Linked DNA regions of Homo sapiens. The protein of the gene in region 4 purifies or fractionates together with the protein of the main gene of each other region. This does not show direct contact. Each region holds a gene or a part of one and is shown on either strand. Other genes may lie near its edges.

The links.
Region 1: the proteins of TAF3 (region 4) and SAP130 purify together in Homo sapiens (affinity purification with western blotting, with the first as the bait; one study listed by BioGRID). This does not show direct contact.
Region 2: the proteins of TAF3 (region 4) and TBPL2 purify together in Homo sapiens (affinity purification with western blotting; one study listed by BioGRID). This does not show direct contact.
Region 3: the proteins of TAF3 (region 4) and NAP1L4 fractionate together in Homo sapiens (co-fractionation; one large-scale study listed by BioGRID). This does not show direct contact.

Annotation. Positions count from the first base shown.
Region 1 is NC_000002.12:127,986,491-127,990,079, reverse strand, and holds part of SAP130 (histone deacetylase complex subunit SAP130), read left to right. Parts: intron 1-213; coding exon 214-516; intron 517-3,117; coding exon 3,118-3,295; intron 3,296-3,589. UniProt on the Homo sapiens protein: Acts as a transcriptional repressor. May function in the assembly and/or enzymatic activity of the mSin3A corepressor complex or in mediating interactions between the complex and other regulatory complexes.
Region 2 is NC_000014.9:55,437,754-55,441,891, reverse strand, and holds the start of TBPL2 (TATA box-binding protein-like 2), read left to right. Parts: upstream 1-1,275; 5' UTR 1,276-1,442; coding exon 1,443-1,496; intron 1,497-3,555; exon of another isoform or gene 3,556-3,950; intron 3,951-4,138. UniProt on the Homo sapiens protein: Transcription factor required in complex with TAF3 for the differentiation of myoblasts into myocytes. The complex replaces TFIID at specific promoters at an early stage in the differentiation process.
Region 3 is NC_000011.10:2,954,258-2,957,846, reverse strand, and holds part of NAP1L4 (nucleosome assembly protein 1-like 4), read left to right. Parts: intron 1-2,080; coding exon 2,081-2,103; intron 2,104-3,200; coding exon 3,201-3,320; intron 3,321-3,589. UniProt on the Homo sapiens protein: Acts as a histone chaperone in nucleosome assembly.
Region 4 is NC_000010.11:8,007,005-8,010,504, forward strand, and holds part of TAF3 (transcription initiation factor TFIID subunit 3), read left to right. Parts: intron 1-2,073; coding exon 2,074-2,326; intron 2,327-3,500. UniProt on the Homo sapiens protein: The TFIID basal transcription factor complex plays a major role in the initiation of RNA polymerase II (Pol II)-dependent transcription.

The DNA.
Region 1 (3,589 bases), on a different chromosome or scaffold from region 4:
GAAAAACAACATCATATTGGTAGGAAGTGAAAGGAAATAACAATCCCAAGTATAGTAAGTTTCAAGTAACAATGTTTATTTATTTATTTTTTTTCAAACCATGGATTTAGATCTTATACAGTGGAGGAAATCCGTTTTTAGTGTTTCTCTCTTTATGTGGACTGTGTGAAATGAAGCTAACCTTCTTATAGTTACCTTTCGCATCATTTTTAGTTTCAGCTCAGGCTCCAAACTCTGCCATCACAGCTCAGACTGGTGTTGGGGTAGCGTCTACCGTCCACCTAAACCCCATGCAGTTGATGACAGTGGATGCATCGCATGCTCGACATATTCAAGGGATCCAGCCAGCACCCATCAGTACCCAGGGTATCCAGCCGGCCCCCATTGGGACCCCAGGGATACAGCCTGCACCACTTGGCACACAGGGAATTCACTCAGCAACCCCAATCAACACACAAGGGCTTCAGCCTGCACCTATGGGTACTCAGCAGCCTCAGCCTGAAGGAAAGACTTCAGGTAATTTTAAATTTTTGCATAGAAGGTGGTTTGGAGAAAAGAAATACATTTGGGTTTAAATCCTTTCTCTGCCACTGGCTTTGTCGTCTTATAATTTCTCTAGGCCTTTTCTTCTTTGTATTAATAATATGAGTTGCTTAGAACTTAGAGTTTCAGGGTCACTGTAAACGTTAGAAATAATATACCTCACTGTAATCCCAGCACTTTGGGAGGCTGAGGCGGGTGGATCACGAGGTCAGGAGATCAAGACTATCCAGGCTAACGTGGTAAAACCCTGTCTACTAAAAATACAAAAAAATTAGCCAGGCGTGGTGGCGGGGGCCTGTAGTCCTAGCTACTCGGGAGGCTGAGGCGAGAGAATGGCGTGAACTGGGGATGTGGAGCTTGCAGTGAGCCGAGATCACGCCACTGCACTCCAGCCTGGGCCACAGAGTGAGACTCTGTCTCCAAAAAAAAAAAAAGATACAGTATACATCAACAGCCCTAGTATTCATTTGAACATAATGAGAAGTGTTATCTTTTTTAAAAGCTCCTAGTTGTGGGAAAAAATTCACCTTATAAGTAGTATTCTCATTGAAGATTTTCTTCAGAGTTGTACATAAAGCTGTAAAACCTTATGCTGATGTTAGCTAATATTATGAATTCTTAAAAAGAAATACTAGTGGAATAACATTTTGAAAAATGGAATAAGTCACTGTATTTAGATCTTTTTGAGACAGATTCTCACTCTGTCACCCAGGCTAGAGTGCAGTGGTGTGTGATCTTGGCTCACCACAGCCTCATCCTCCTGGGCTCAAGTGATCCTCCCACCTCAGCCGCCTGAGTAACTGGGACTATAGGTGCAAGCTACCATGCCTGGCTAATTTTTGTATTTTTAATAGAGACAGAGTTTTGCCATGTTGCCCAGGCTGGTCTCAAACTCCTGGGCTCAAGTAGTCTACTCACTTTGGCCTCACAAAGTGCTGGGATTACAAGCATGAGTCATTACACCAGCTAGGTTATTTTTTTTTTGGCTGAATTTAAGATTCCATGTACTTGGATTATTATTGATTAGCCATTTCTCTAATGTAGTTTAAAAAAACAAAATGGCTGTTTCTCAGCCAAGGCACTGATTTTTTTTTTTTTTTTTTTTTTAAAAAGACAAGGTCTCACTCACTCTGTTGCCCAGCTGGAACACAGTGGTACAATCATGGCTCACTGTAGCCTTGACCTTCTGGGCTCAAGCAGTCCTTATGCCTCAGACACCCGTGTAGCAAGGACTACAAGTGCATGCCACCACACCTGGGTAATTATTTTTGATTTTTTGTAGAAACAGGATATTGCTTGTTGCCCAGGCTGGTCTCGAACTCCAGAGTTCAAGCTATCCTTCAGCCTTGTCCTCCCAAAGTGCTGCGATTGCAGGCATCAGCCACTGTGCCTGGCTGGAGCTATGAATTTTAATTGTTCTGTAGACCTTGAATTCAACTATTTAATCAAAGTCTCTCTGATTTTTTATTACTAAACTAAATGTCTATGATAGAGATGCAATTTACCCATGATGACCCACCCGGTAGGATGGTGTACTACATATTTAAGGGCACCTGCCAGAAAACTCATGATATTAAGTTGACTCCTATGAAATTGCCATTTTTATAGGTCAAAAACTGTCAAACACAGGTATTTTCTGATTATGATCTCATGCTCACCAGTATTTTGATGCTAACTTTAAGTGTATAGTTAAAATATCTGTTAGTTGAATGTGTTTCTAAAGATAGACTGGGGAGGGTACCATTATTGAGGGTTGAGAGAGATTGGTATTTTACAAAAACTGAATGAGTACATTTCTTGAAGTGTACATTGGAGCATGCTATCAGGCTGGTAGATAGTGTTTTCTATTTGTGGCTCTTGTATTAAGCCTTTCTTGTCTGTCAGTTTTCTTATCTCTAAAATGGAAATTACAATGATGGTAAGAATTATATCAGTAAAAAATGTAAAGTAACTAGTAGAGTGAGAGACTATACTAGATACTATGTACTTTGTTCACCTTATCTCATTTATTAGTAACTGTGATTATAGAGCAAAGAAAAAATAATGGTATGGGCCAAGTGTGGTGGCTCACGCCTGTAATCCCAGCACTTTGGGAGGCCAAGGCAGGTGGATCACTTAAGGTCAGGAATTCGAGACTAGCCTGGCCAACACGGTGAAACCCCGTCTCTACTAAAAAATACAAAAATTATCCAGGTGTGGTGGTGCACGCCTGTAATCCCAGCTACTCTTGTGGTTAAGGCAGGAGAATCACTTGAACCTGGGAGGTGGAGGTTGCAGTGAGCTGAGATTGCACCACTGTATTCCAGCCTGGGCAAGAGAGCAAGACTCTCTTTCAAACAAAGAAAAAGAAAAAATAATGGTATGGATCATGCATCAGTAGACTTAGTAACTGCTCCCATTTAGCTATCTGCTCTTTGTCGGATGAACATTGTGCTCCTGTCCCTTATCAGTTTGAAATTGGACAGTTAGAACATGGATACCTAATTCTAGTGGTCTCATCATTTTTATTTATGTCTTCTATGGCATTTTGTTTCCCTCTCTTCAATGTTCTTTCCTGTTGCCTCTCTCCTGTAGCAGTGGTGTTGGCAGATGGAGCCACAATTGTGGCCAACCCTATTAGCAATCCATTCAGTGCTGCTCCAGCAGCAACAACCGTGGTGCAGACCCACAGCCAGAGTGCTAGCACCAACGCTCCCGCCCAGGGCTCATCGCCACGGCCAAGCATACTCCGGAAGAAACCTGCCACAGATGGGTGAGTAGACCTGGTAGTGCCGAATGACACCTCTGGTTCTGGATATAACTGGTATACATAATAGGCACTCTTATCTAATGCTGGTATCAAACTCATCTCTCATTTTCTGTGGTGTGTTAAAATTTCCTCCAAAACAACTTGACCACAGGATTATTCAGTAGAGCCTTACCCAGCTGAGACTGTAAGATCTTAACAAATCCTGGAGTCAGTGAGGTGTTAGTTTGTAAGCATCTGTTGCATACTGCTTTAATTCTCTCTAGTTCTGGAACTTCAATCATAGAACTTTTAAAGTAG
Region 2 (4,138 bases), on a different chromosome or scaffold from region 4:
ACTCGGGAGACTGAGGCACAAGAATTGCTGGAACCTGGGAGGCGGAGGTTGCAGTGAGCCAAGATCTGCACTCCAGCCTGGGTGACAGAGCAGACTCTGTCTCAAAAAAAGAAAAGAAAAGAAAAAAGGTATCAATTATGTTTATAAAGTTGTTCTACACAGTTAAGCTCTTATGCAGGCACTGAAAATTAAAATAATGATTTCAGGAAAGAGAAACCCTCTCTGAATGTTTTGCGTTATTTTCGTGAGATTTCCTCAACCCTAACTGTGCAGCAACACACTGTTTTGTATGTGGCTTTAGACGGAACGCTCAGTGACTGGAGAAAAACCACGTGGGATTTGATGGTGAGAAGTAATGATAATGTAAAAATACTACACCTGACTAGGTAAGGTGACTCATTCCACTCACTCTGCTCAAGAGAAAAAAAACATCCCTGGCGGAATGCAGTGGCTCATGCCTGTAATCCCAGCATTTTGGGAGTCTGAGGCAGGAGGATGGCTTGAGACCAAGAGTCCAGGACCAGCCTAGGTAACATACCGAGACCTTGTCACTACTAAAAATAAAAATTATAAAAATAAAATTAGCCAGGCGTGGTGGCACCCGCCTGTAATTCCAACTGCTAGGGAGGCTGAGGCAGGAGCTTGAGTCCAGGAGGTCGAGGCTGCAGTGAGCTATGGTCGCCTGTCACCGCACTCCAGCCTTGGCGACAGGGTGGAAACCTAGTATTTAAGTTTCTTAGAAAAACGGCTGGGTGCAGTGGCTCACGCCTGTAATCCCAGCACTTTGGGAGGCCGAGGCGGGTGGATCACCTGAGGTCAGGAGTTTCAGACCAGCCTGACCAACAAGGTGAAACCAGTCTCTACTAAAAATACAAAAATTAGCAGGTCATGGTGGTGCGTACCTGTAATCACAGCTACTTGGGAGGCTGAGGCAGGAGAATAGCTTGAACCCGGGAGGCGGAGGTTGCAGTGAGCCAAGATGGCACTGGGCGAAAGAGTGGGATTCCATCTCAACAACAACAACAAAAAATCCCTTTTTTTTTCTCACTTTCCATGCACTTGCACCGAGAATTTCTCTCCTGGGAGCAAAGACCACATTGCGAGTATCGAAGGAAATCAAATCTGCAGGCCCAGGCCCTTCCCAGCTGCGGGCAGAGTGGGGTGACTGCCCCCAGGCGAGACGCCCCTCTCCGGCCCACCCCTAGCCCATCTCCGCTTCCCAGCGCCCATGGGCCGGTAGCTGGGTTCCGCATCCCGCTCCAAGCCCATCGCCCAACGCTTCTCTCGCGCCCTCTGCAGGAACCTGGGCCGAGGGCCGCCCCGCCTCGCTGCCCCCAGGCTCATAAATGGCCTCTGCGCCCTGGCCGGAGCGGGTTCCGAGGCTGCTCGCTCCGCGCTTACCCTCTTACCCGCCCCCACCCCCAACAGTGGGATTACGGTCCATGGAGCAGGAGGAGACCTACCTGGAGCTCTACCTGGACCAGTGCGCCGCTCAGGTGAGGCTGCCGCCACTGTCCCAGAGTCAGGACCCAAGTCCCGCCCGGTCCTGTGCCAAGGGCTTTGCCTTCGTTCCTCTTAAAACTCATAGCGACCATAAGAGGCGGGCTTGGTTTCCCAAGTCATTAAGTTGAAGGTTAGAAGCTTCGAAAAGTGAAATAATTTGACCAAGGTTGCCAAACAGAGCTCGAACTTCATCTAGCACGAATCCAGAACCGTTCACTCAGTTACCAGATTACATGGCCCTTCCCAGGTTGTTCTGGTTTTTGATTGATTGATTGATTGATTGATTGATTTTTCTCTGAGATGGAGTCTCGCCCAGGCTGGAGTGCAGTGGCGCGATCTCAGCTCACTGCAACCTCCGCCTCCTGGGTTCAAGCGATTCTCGTGCCTCAGCCTCCCGTGTAGCTGGGATTTCAGGCACACGCACCACACCTGGCTAATTTTTTTTTTTTTTTTTTTTTGAGACAGAGTCTCGCTCTGTCACCCAGGCTGGAGTGCAGTGGCGCGATCTCGGCTCACTGCAAGCTCTGCCTCCCAGGTTCACGCCATTCTCCTACCTCAGCCTCCCGAGTAGCTGGGACTACAGGAGCCCGCCACTACGCCCGGCTAATTTTTTTGTATTTTTAGTAGAGACAGTGTTTCACCGTGTTAGCCAGGATGGTCTCGATCTCCTGACCTCGTGATCCACCCGCCTTGGCCTCCCAAAGTGCTGGGATTACAGGCGTGAGCCACCATGCCCGGCTAATTTTTGTATTTTTTAGTAGAGACGGGGGGGGGTTTGCTTTTCTCCCCAGGCTGGTGTTGAACTCTTGACCTCAAGTCATCCCACCCACCTTGGCCTCCCGAAGTGCTGGGATTTCAGGCGTGAGCCACCACTCCTGGCCCCCCGCCTGGTTCTAAAGGACATGCACAGAGAGTGCATTGTGCTAGCTGTAGTGACTTCAGGTTCCCACGGGTTTCTGCTTTGACAGGGGAAACAGAGAGCCCCTGTCCCCTGCAGCATGGATGCCAGTACTAGGCCTCCCTCTAGAAGTCAAGTCTCTGGTGGAGCTGGTGGTTGCAGGGTTTGCCAAATGTCAACTAGAAACACCTGTGGCTTTTTTTTTTTTTTTTAAAGTTAATTACTCTTAAGACTTAAAAATCCTTAGCATTGGGCAGGGTGAGGTGGCTCACGCCTGTAATCCCAGCACTTTGGGAGGCCGAGGCACGTGGCTCATTTGAGGTCAGGAGTTCAAGACCAGCCTGGCCAACATGGCGAAACTTCGCCTCTGCTAAAAAATACAAAAATTAGCTGGGCGTGGTGGCAGGAGCCTGTAGTCCCAGCTACTCGGGAGGCTGAGGCAGGAGAATTGCTTGCATCCAGGAGGAAGAGGTTGCAGTGAGCCGAGATGGTGCCACTGCACTCCAGCCTGGGCGACAGAGTGAGACTCCGTCTCAAAAAAAAAAAAAGGCAAGAGAGCAACTTACTTTTTTTTTTTTTTTTTTGGTGGGAGAATTTTTTTATAAAGACAATGATCAGCACTGAGGTAGAAATGGTGACTTTCCCTAGCATTTAACACAGCAAAGAAGAGCCCAGACAGGAAAGGTTCTGAGAAAGGTAAGTGGATACAGTTTAACAAAAATGACTAAAGATTCTGAAGCCAAGGATGCAGTGAACGTGCTACACAGACATGTTCTGAGGAGAGTCACTACAGGCAGACCCTGCAGGGAGCCGGTCAAGTTTCCATTACCATAAAACATCCTCCTTCAAATCCTCGCCATTGCCTTACATTCTTGTGTACGTGTAGCTTTGTTCCCTGATAAAATGCCATGATGGGGAAGGGGAAGGGGAAGGGAGACACTGACTGTTGCAGCTTTGGTGCTTTAGCGTAAATTGCGGGAGGAGACCCTTTACATCTGGGACAGGTGAGACCAAGGAAACCCTGCAGTGGAATTGGGGCCCATTGTCCCCATCTCACTTTTCTTAGGCCACTCTGTGGGTTGAGGGTGGGGAAAGATGGGAGCGTATCATGTATTCATAATGAAATAGAGGTCAAAAATCTTATTTCAAGAGAATAGCTTGATTTTGTTTTTAATTCTAAGTGCTTTCTTTAAACAATTAGTCACCCCTGCCACCTGCTGGACTTGTAGTAACAGAACACTCCAATAGGCTCCAGTCAGACGTACATTAGCGGAGGTAGCATTGTCACTGAGAAGATGCAACACGGTGCATTCCTGACCCTTCAGTGGTCAGAAAAGAAATAAGATCTTTTTGAGTTTCTCCTGCAAGCAGTGCTCAAAATCTGGAGTCCAGGCCCGTAACTTGAGTGAAGCAGGTGGTAATGCATTTATCAAGCTAATCGATTTTTTCCCATAATAAAGTCCATGAATTTTACATTAGTTGCTTTCCTCAGGTGCACACATCATTCTCTCCGTTGCTGGATAATGGTAGTTGAGCAGCCTTCCCTGGACTGAAAATAAATTGATTTACACTATTCTTACCATTTAAGTTTCAATAACTTTTTTCCTAGTGTAAATTCTTCTAACTAGAACATTACAAGAATTCTTATTACGCCTTTGCCTAGAAGGAATAACCATGGGTCTTTAGTGAGTCTTGATTAGCATTCAACTATATCTTAAACTTCCTTCATTTATTCTA
Region 3 (3,589 bases), on a different chromosome or scaffold from region 4:
AATTTATATATTGTAAGAAACACAAGTAGTTGGGACTTTCATTTTTGAAAAACATCGGCAGAATCACAGCTTGGAAGCTGCTTCTTTTTGTTTATTTATTTATTTTTTAAATTTTCCTAAGTGGTAAAATAAAGATGAGACCTTTGAGCTAGTAAAGGTTGACCAATTGATTTTAAGAGTAAATTTCTTGGGATTTTTCATATAATTTCCTAATCGCGAGAAAATGTGAAGGTCAAGCAACTTGTCAGTGTTAAAATATCCATATTCTCTTTAGTTTCCATGAACTAAAACATAATTTGAAGTGAAGAGATGCCAGCCCCTGCTGCAGATAATCAGTGAGTGTTTGTTTGTATGTGGGGCCACAGGGCGGATCTCTTCTCCAGTCTGAGTGATTGATTTTTTGATTTTGTCTCTGAGCTTAGCACCCTTATTTATCAAGCTGCCCTTCAGAGTTCAGTCCATTATTTTAATTGTGGTGCCTATTTTCTGCAATTAGACTTTGAACCTAGAAGATGCAAATACATACGGTTTGGGGAATGAGAGCAGTCATAAATTTAGATATTACATTTCCTTTTTTTGGAAGATTCCTTTTAGACACTTGGGTTGGGCATACTGGAGATTGTCTGTGAATTCAGCGTGAAGAAGGGAGGCTTTAATTTCTGGAATCACTTTGTGTAGGAAGTTCTCTTAAAACTGATTTAAAAATAATTTTTAGGATAAAAATGGAGTTGATAATGGACTCAAGGGAATTTTTAAGTGTTTTTTTTTTTAGATTCTAAAACTTTTAGGGTATGATGGTTGCACAACTCTAAAATTAACGTACTGAAAGTCATAAAGTTGTACATTTAGAGTGTATGCCTTTTAATGGTATGTAAATCCCATCAGTAAAGCCACTTTTAAAGTAATCAAACACATAATACCAAATGGTAAGTGCTTTGAAAAAAATTGAGGATGGCTGCGGAATAGGTAATGGGGTAGTGAAGGAACAGACAAAATGGACTCCTGTGGTGTGAAGTGAAGGAGGCATTAGCTAGTGAGTCCAGCTCCTTTGTCCTTAAAACTGCAAAGCCAGTCCAGAAGTATGAGTGTTCAGAGTCCTTGTACTATTCATGACTTGGGCCAGAGTGCCCTGGGGAGCATGCTGCTCCAGCATTTAGACACCCAGCCATGCTCCTAACCCATGTCTAAAACCCCTGGGTGATGCTGGCACACCGAGGCTTGGGAACTCTGCCTCACTCATGGGTGGTGTTTACGCACCCAACATTCATGTCTCAGCAGCAAACAGCAAGTGCTGCCAGGGTTGTGGTCGCTTAATGGGAAGGGAGACTCAGAGAGGAGAGCCCAGTGAAGATTGAAAAGGCAGGTATGAGACTAAGCAGAGTAAACATTCAACTCCTGATGAAGCTCAGGGTCTTGTAGTAAATGTTTCTAAAATCAGGGGGTTGGATCTTCTACCAGTTGAACGTTGCACAGCTTCATTGAGTGTGGTTAGAAGTCCCTATCTGTCTTGGTGGGCTTAGCTCGTCTGAGCATCAGCTTTCGCTGAGGAATTGCGCCACTCTACAGGGGCCCCTGGTGGGCATTCCAGCACTCTCCAAACAAACAGAAATGCAGTTTCTGTCTCGCTGATTTGCAGTGCCTTAGTAACACTCACAGCTTATAAGGCTTAAGGACTTTCTCTTTCCTGCACCATCATGTATAGTTCTGCGGGACATGAGTTAAGTTTCCCCATAAAGCACAAATGCACTGAATGGCCACAGCCTGGGGGCTGTTTGCCATTCCTCCTGTTAATATATTAACTCTCTCAAAATGATCTTCTCAAGCTTGAGTGCCAGCCCATGGCACATGATGGAGGAGGAGAAGGGAGGGGGGCATAGAGGCACTCAGGCCAGCTTCAGAAGTGGTGGATGGAGCTTGCAAAGATGTCTGTGAGGAGATGCAAGGCTTTGGGGATTTCTGTTAAACCTCGAGGTGAGAAATGTTACATTTTATCTACCAGCACAGCTTCCTCCTGTGTGGGCTTTAAAATTCTGGGAGTTGTCACTGTAATTTAAATATGTTTTGTCTTTTCTTTTTCTAGCATCCGGGGATGGAGAATCACTGGTAAGATTTGTTGTTAATAGTCTTATTTTCCTGTTGAAGTCTCTCCTGAGTGAATGTCTACTTGTCTACTTGTTAAAAAAAGTCCAGTCCTGGCTGTGTGTGGACTGGGTATGCCAGTGATCTTAATGCTTTGGGAGGCTGAGGTGGGAGGACTGCACGAGTCCAGGAGTTTGAGACCAGCCTGGGCAACATAGCACAACCCCATCTCCACAAAAAATTAAAACCAAATAAATTAGCCAGCCGAACATGGTGGTTCACGCCCGTAATACCAGCACTGTGGGAGGCCAAGGTGGGTGGATCACCAGAGGTCAGGAGTTCAAGACCAGTCTGGTCAACATGGTGAAACCCCGTTTCTGCTTAAAATACCAAAAAAAAAAAAAATTAGTTGGACACGGTGGCAGCGCCTGTAATCTCAGCTACTCAGGAGGCTCAAGCAGGAGAATCACTTGAACCCGAGAGGAGGAGGTTGCAGTGAGCTGAGATTGCACCACCGTATTCCATTGGGCGACAGAGCAAGACTCCGTCTCAAAAGATAAAATAATAAATTAGCTGGACATGGTGGTGCACTGTGTAGTTCCAGGGTCGCTGGGGCCCAGGAGCTTGAGGCTGGAGTGAGCTGTGATTGCACCACTGCCCTCCAACCTGGGTGATAGAATAAGACCCTGTCTCTTAAAAAAAAAAAATCCATTTCTGTTTCCTAAAACTCTGGGATTAATTTGAAATCATTACACATCTAAGTAAAAGTATGTGTTTCATATGTTGATTTCAGTAGCAAATGTGCAGTGCTTTAATACTGCCTGTTTCCCATATGTGAGACTGATACCGCCTACTCTGGGTGAGACCTTTGGACAAGTTGTGGAGCTGTAGGGCCCTCACTTCCCACTTTCTCTGCCATTTTGCTTCAGTAGCTCTTTAAAGCTACTTAAAGTTGTTTTAAAGGGGCTTTGAGTGTCTAGTGGCTGTCCCCCAGCAGTGCAGGAGTTTGGTGTTTTAAGTTAAGTAAATCAAAAGTGAGGGGCTGAGGTTTGGCTGAGGGTGGTGAAGTGAATGTTTTTATCCCATTAAAATGAGTTAACACGTAGGTTTTTCCTCCTCAGGATGAAGATTCTGAATTCACATTAGCCTCTGATTTTGAAATTGGACACTTTTTCCGTGAGCGGATAGTCCCGCGGGCTGTGCTGTACTTCACTGGGGAGGCCATAGAAGATGATGACAATGTATGAGGCTCGGGGAAGGGGGGCTTCCACCTGGGTGCTTATCTCTGTTGGTGCAGAGTGGCCCTGAATTGTGGCTTAGGAAACCCCCATGCCTAATCTTTTTATTACATCATCAGCCAGATATGTAGTCCAAGCTGCTGTCCTTGTTGTGGGGGGAATACGCTTGAAGAGGAGAAGTCTGAGGAACAGAGCAGGAAAAGCAGGTGTCTGTGAAGCAGTTTCAGAGGTGATTGCCAGTTTCCTATGTGAGCCCTGCCTAGTGACTCAAC
Region 4 (3,500 bases):
GCTGGCAATTCCTGGTGAGGTGAGGATGGCCATATTCCATGGCCCAGAAACTTCATTTCTAGGGATGGGGCTTGGAGAAGTCCTTGAACAGTTCTATTTATGAGTCAGTGTGTAAGTTTACAAGTGAATGTCTCCTACTTTCAGTAGGATGATGGACAAAAACCTTTGGCTTACTAATACCATGGAATACAATATAGTAATTAGAATAAATAATATAGATCTCTATGTGTCAGCATGGATAAATCAGGAGACATAAAACTAAGTGGGAAAAGCTAGTTGCAGAGGACAACTGGAGTGTGACATTGTGTGTATAAAAGTTAAAAGACAGCAAACAGTAATGCAGTATGTATTGTTTATGGACACCTACAAAGGCAGGAAAGGTACAGAGAAAAAAACAAAGTACCAAGAACAATAAACAAAAACATACCTGTCTTAGGGCAGTGGTTGCTCTGGGGCAGGGAAGGAAGTTCATCTGAAACAAATATGGCAAAGGCTAACATATTTTATCTCTGATTATTACCTAACTGTCTGTTATATTGTTTTCTCTGTGTGTGAAATTATATATATATATATATATATATATATATATATATATATATATATATACCTTTTTTTTTTAATAAAGAAGCTTAAAAACAAGCTTTGGAATCAAGTAGACTTTGGTTCAAAAGCTGCCACCCGTTTACTCAAATTCCTTTCTCTTGCTGATCTTCAGTTTCCTCATCTACAAAATGGGGTAATCATTACTTCTTTGATGTTCTCATAAGGACTGGATGAGATGATGTTTGTAAAGTGCCTAGTATAACCTCTAACTTCTTATAGGTCCTCAATAAATAGTGCTTTTTATAATAAATTGAGTAATCCAAGGCCACAGGTCTAGTCTCTGGCGGCTGTAGAATTTGAACTCAGATGTCCTGGCCCCAAGTCCAGAGCTGCTTCCACTGGCGAGAGTTGTGTGAAGAGGATGCTGTTAGTGGAGGAGCAGGGTCACAGTACCACAGCTCTAGCGACCTGCGGCAGCATCACCAGGACAGAAGCTGCCGCTGCATTACCTCCTCCTTACCTCTGCAGCCCGTCTGGGAACAATCTTTTTTTTTTTTTTTTTTTTTTGAGACGAAGTCTCACTCTGTAGCCCAAGCTAGAGTGCAGTGGCGAGATCTCGGCTCACTGTAACCTCTGCCTCCTGGGTTCAAGCGATTCTCCTGCCTCAGCCTCCTGAGTAGCTGGAATTACAGGTGCACGCCACTGCACCCGGCTAATTTTTTGTATTTTTTAGTAGAGACGGTGTTTCACCATGTTGGCCAGGCTGGTCTTGAACTCTCGACCTCAGGTAATCCACCCACCTCGGCCTCCCAGAGTGCTAGGATTACAGGGGTGAGCCACCTTGCCCAGCCTGAACGGTCAATCTTTAAAACCTGGCAATCAAAGCCAAACCCAGAAGTGAGAAAGTCTTCACAGTTTTATTGACAATGGCATTGAGAGTATTAAGAAGAAACATTGGAATTAAGAAGAGAGAAATAGAAACTTTTTCTTTTTAAGCTGCTCTGTCCAGCAGCTTAGGCCAGGTTAGGTTTATGGTAATTAACAACCCAAAAATCTCAAGGGCTTCCAACAGCAAATGTGTCTTTCTTGCCCATCTCCAGTGTGGAGCACAGGCTGCTCCAGGTCCTCTCCAGCTGGAGCCACAGTGGAAGGAGCAGCCCCTGTCAGGCCCCCCCGAGGACTCAGCAGAGGTGGGGGTGGGGAGCGCCACCTCTGAAGCCGTCAGAGCTTCTGCCCCAGCACAGGAACAGGCAATTGAAGTCATATTTCTGTGAACAATGCATGTGTATTGGTTGCTAGAAATTTCTAACTGTCTGGCCATTGAGGGGAAGTTTGGAAAATGAAAAATTCGTCTGAGTAAGTGGAGAGGCCACTTCATGCAGGGCCTGGAACTCAGTTCTTGAGCTGCCTCTAGACGTTGAAGTATTTCGCTACTGGAAGAAAAGCTATTTTACGATCATGTTTTTAAGCACGGGTTTGGTTCGATGATGATCCTGTTTTGACTTTTACCTTCTCTTCTTTTGTTGACAGTGTCATCAGCAAGGTGGTCCCTGCCCCCGAGGCCAAGCCGGCGCCCTCGCAGAACAGGCCGAAGACCCCACCGCCGGCCCCCGCGCCCGCCCCCGGCCCCATGCTCGTCAGCCCTGCGCCCGTGCCGCTGCCGCTGCTCGCCCAGGCCGCCGCGGGCCCTGCCCTGCTGCCCTCCCCGGGTCCCGCCGCCTCCGGGGCCAGTGCCAAAGCCCCCGTGCGCAGCGTGGTGACTGAGACGGTCAGCACCTACGTGGTGCGTACCTGCCGCCCGCGCGGTTAGCATGGAGACGTTTTCAGATCGAGACAAGTGTGTGCTCTGAATCACTATCGAATTTCAGACGCATTTCTCTTCAAAATTTTATTATTTACTTAATTATTTTTGAGACAGGGTCTCCCTGTGTGGCTCAGGCTGGAGTACAGTGGCCCAATCATAGCTCACTGCAACCTCAAACTCCTGGGCCCAAGCGATCCTCCTGCATTAGCTTCTCAAAGTGGTGGGGTTACAGGCCTGAGCCACTGCCCCTGGCCAGACACGTTTCTTTTTTTTTCTTTTTTTTTTTTGAGACAGAGTTTCGCTCTTATTGCCCAACCTGGAATGCGGTGGTGAGATCTCAGCTCACTGCAACCTCCACCTCCCAGGTTCAAGCGATTCTCCTGCCTCAGCCTCCTGAGTAGCTGGGATTACAGGCACGTGCCACCACACCTGGCCAATTTTTTGTATTTTTAGTAGAAACGGTTTCACCGTGTTAGCCAGGCTGGTCTCAAACTCCTGACCTAAGGTGATCCACCCGCCTCGGCCTCCCAAAGTGTGGGATTACAGGCATGAGCCACCGTGCCCGGCTTTTTTTTTTTGAAAGGGGATTTCACTCTGTCACCGAGGCTGGAGTGCAGTGGTACGATCTCGGCTCACTGCAGCCCCTGCCTCCCAGGCTCAAGCGATCCTCCCACCTCTTGAGTAGCTGGGATCACAGGCAGTCACCACCACTCTCGATTAGTTTTTTGTATTTTTGGTGGAGACAGGGTTTCACTATGTTGCCCAGGCTGGTCTTGAGCTCCTGAGCTCCAGCAATCCACCCATTTCTGCCTCCCAACGTGCTGAGATGACAGGCATGAACAACCATGCCCAGCCAAGATGCATTTCTTCATTGCAGTTTTTCACTGCATTTTCAAGCTTTTGGCTGAAAAGTTACATCACAATGTTCACATAGTCAGCCTCCATAAATCATATCAAAGCTTGTTTTTATATTGTTTTGGGATATGACTATATGCATATATACAGTAATATCAATCTGTAAATGTAGAGACGCATGGTGGTACTGAAATCTCACATTGAATTTCTTGATCAAGCAATTCAGTTATTCACTTAAGAGTATAATTTATAGAATGTACACTGATATTATGAGCCAGGTAGTGTTTCTGAATAATAG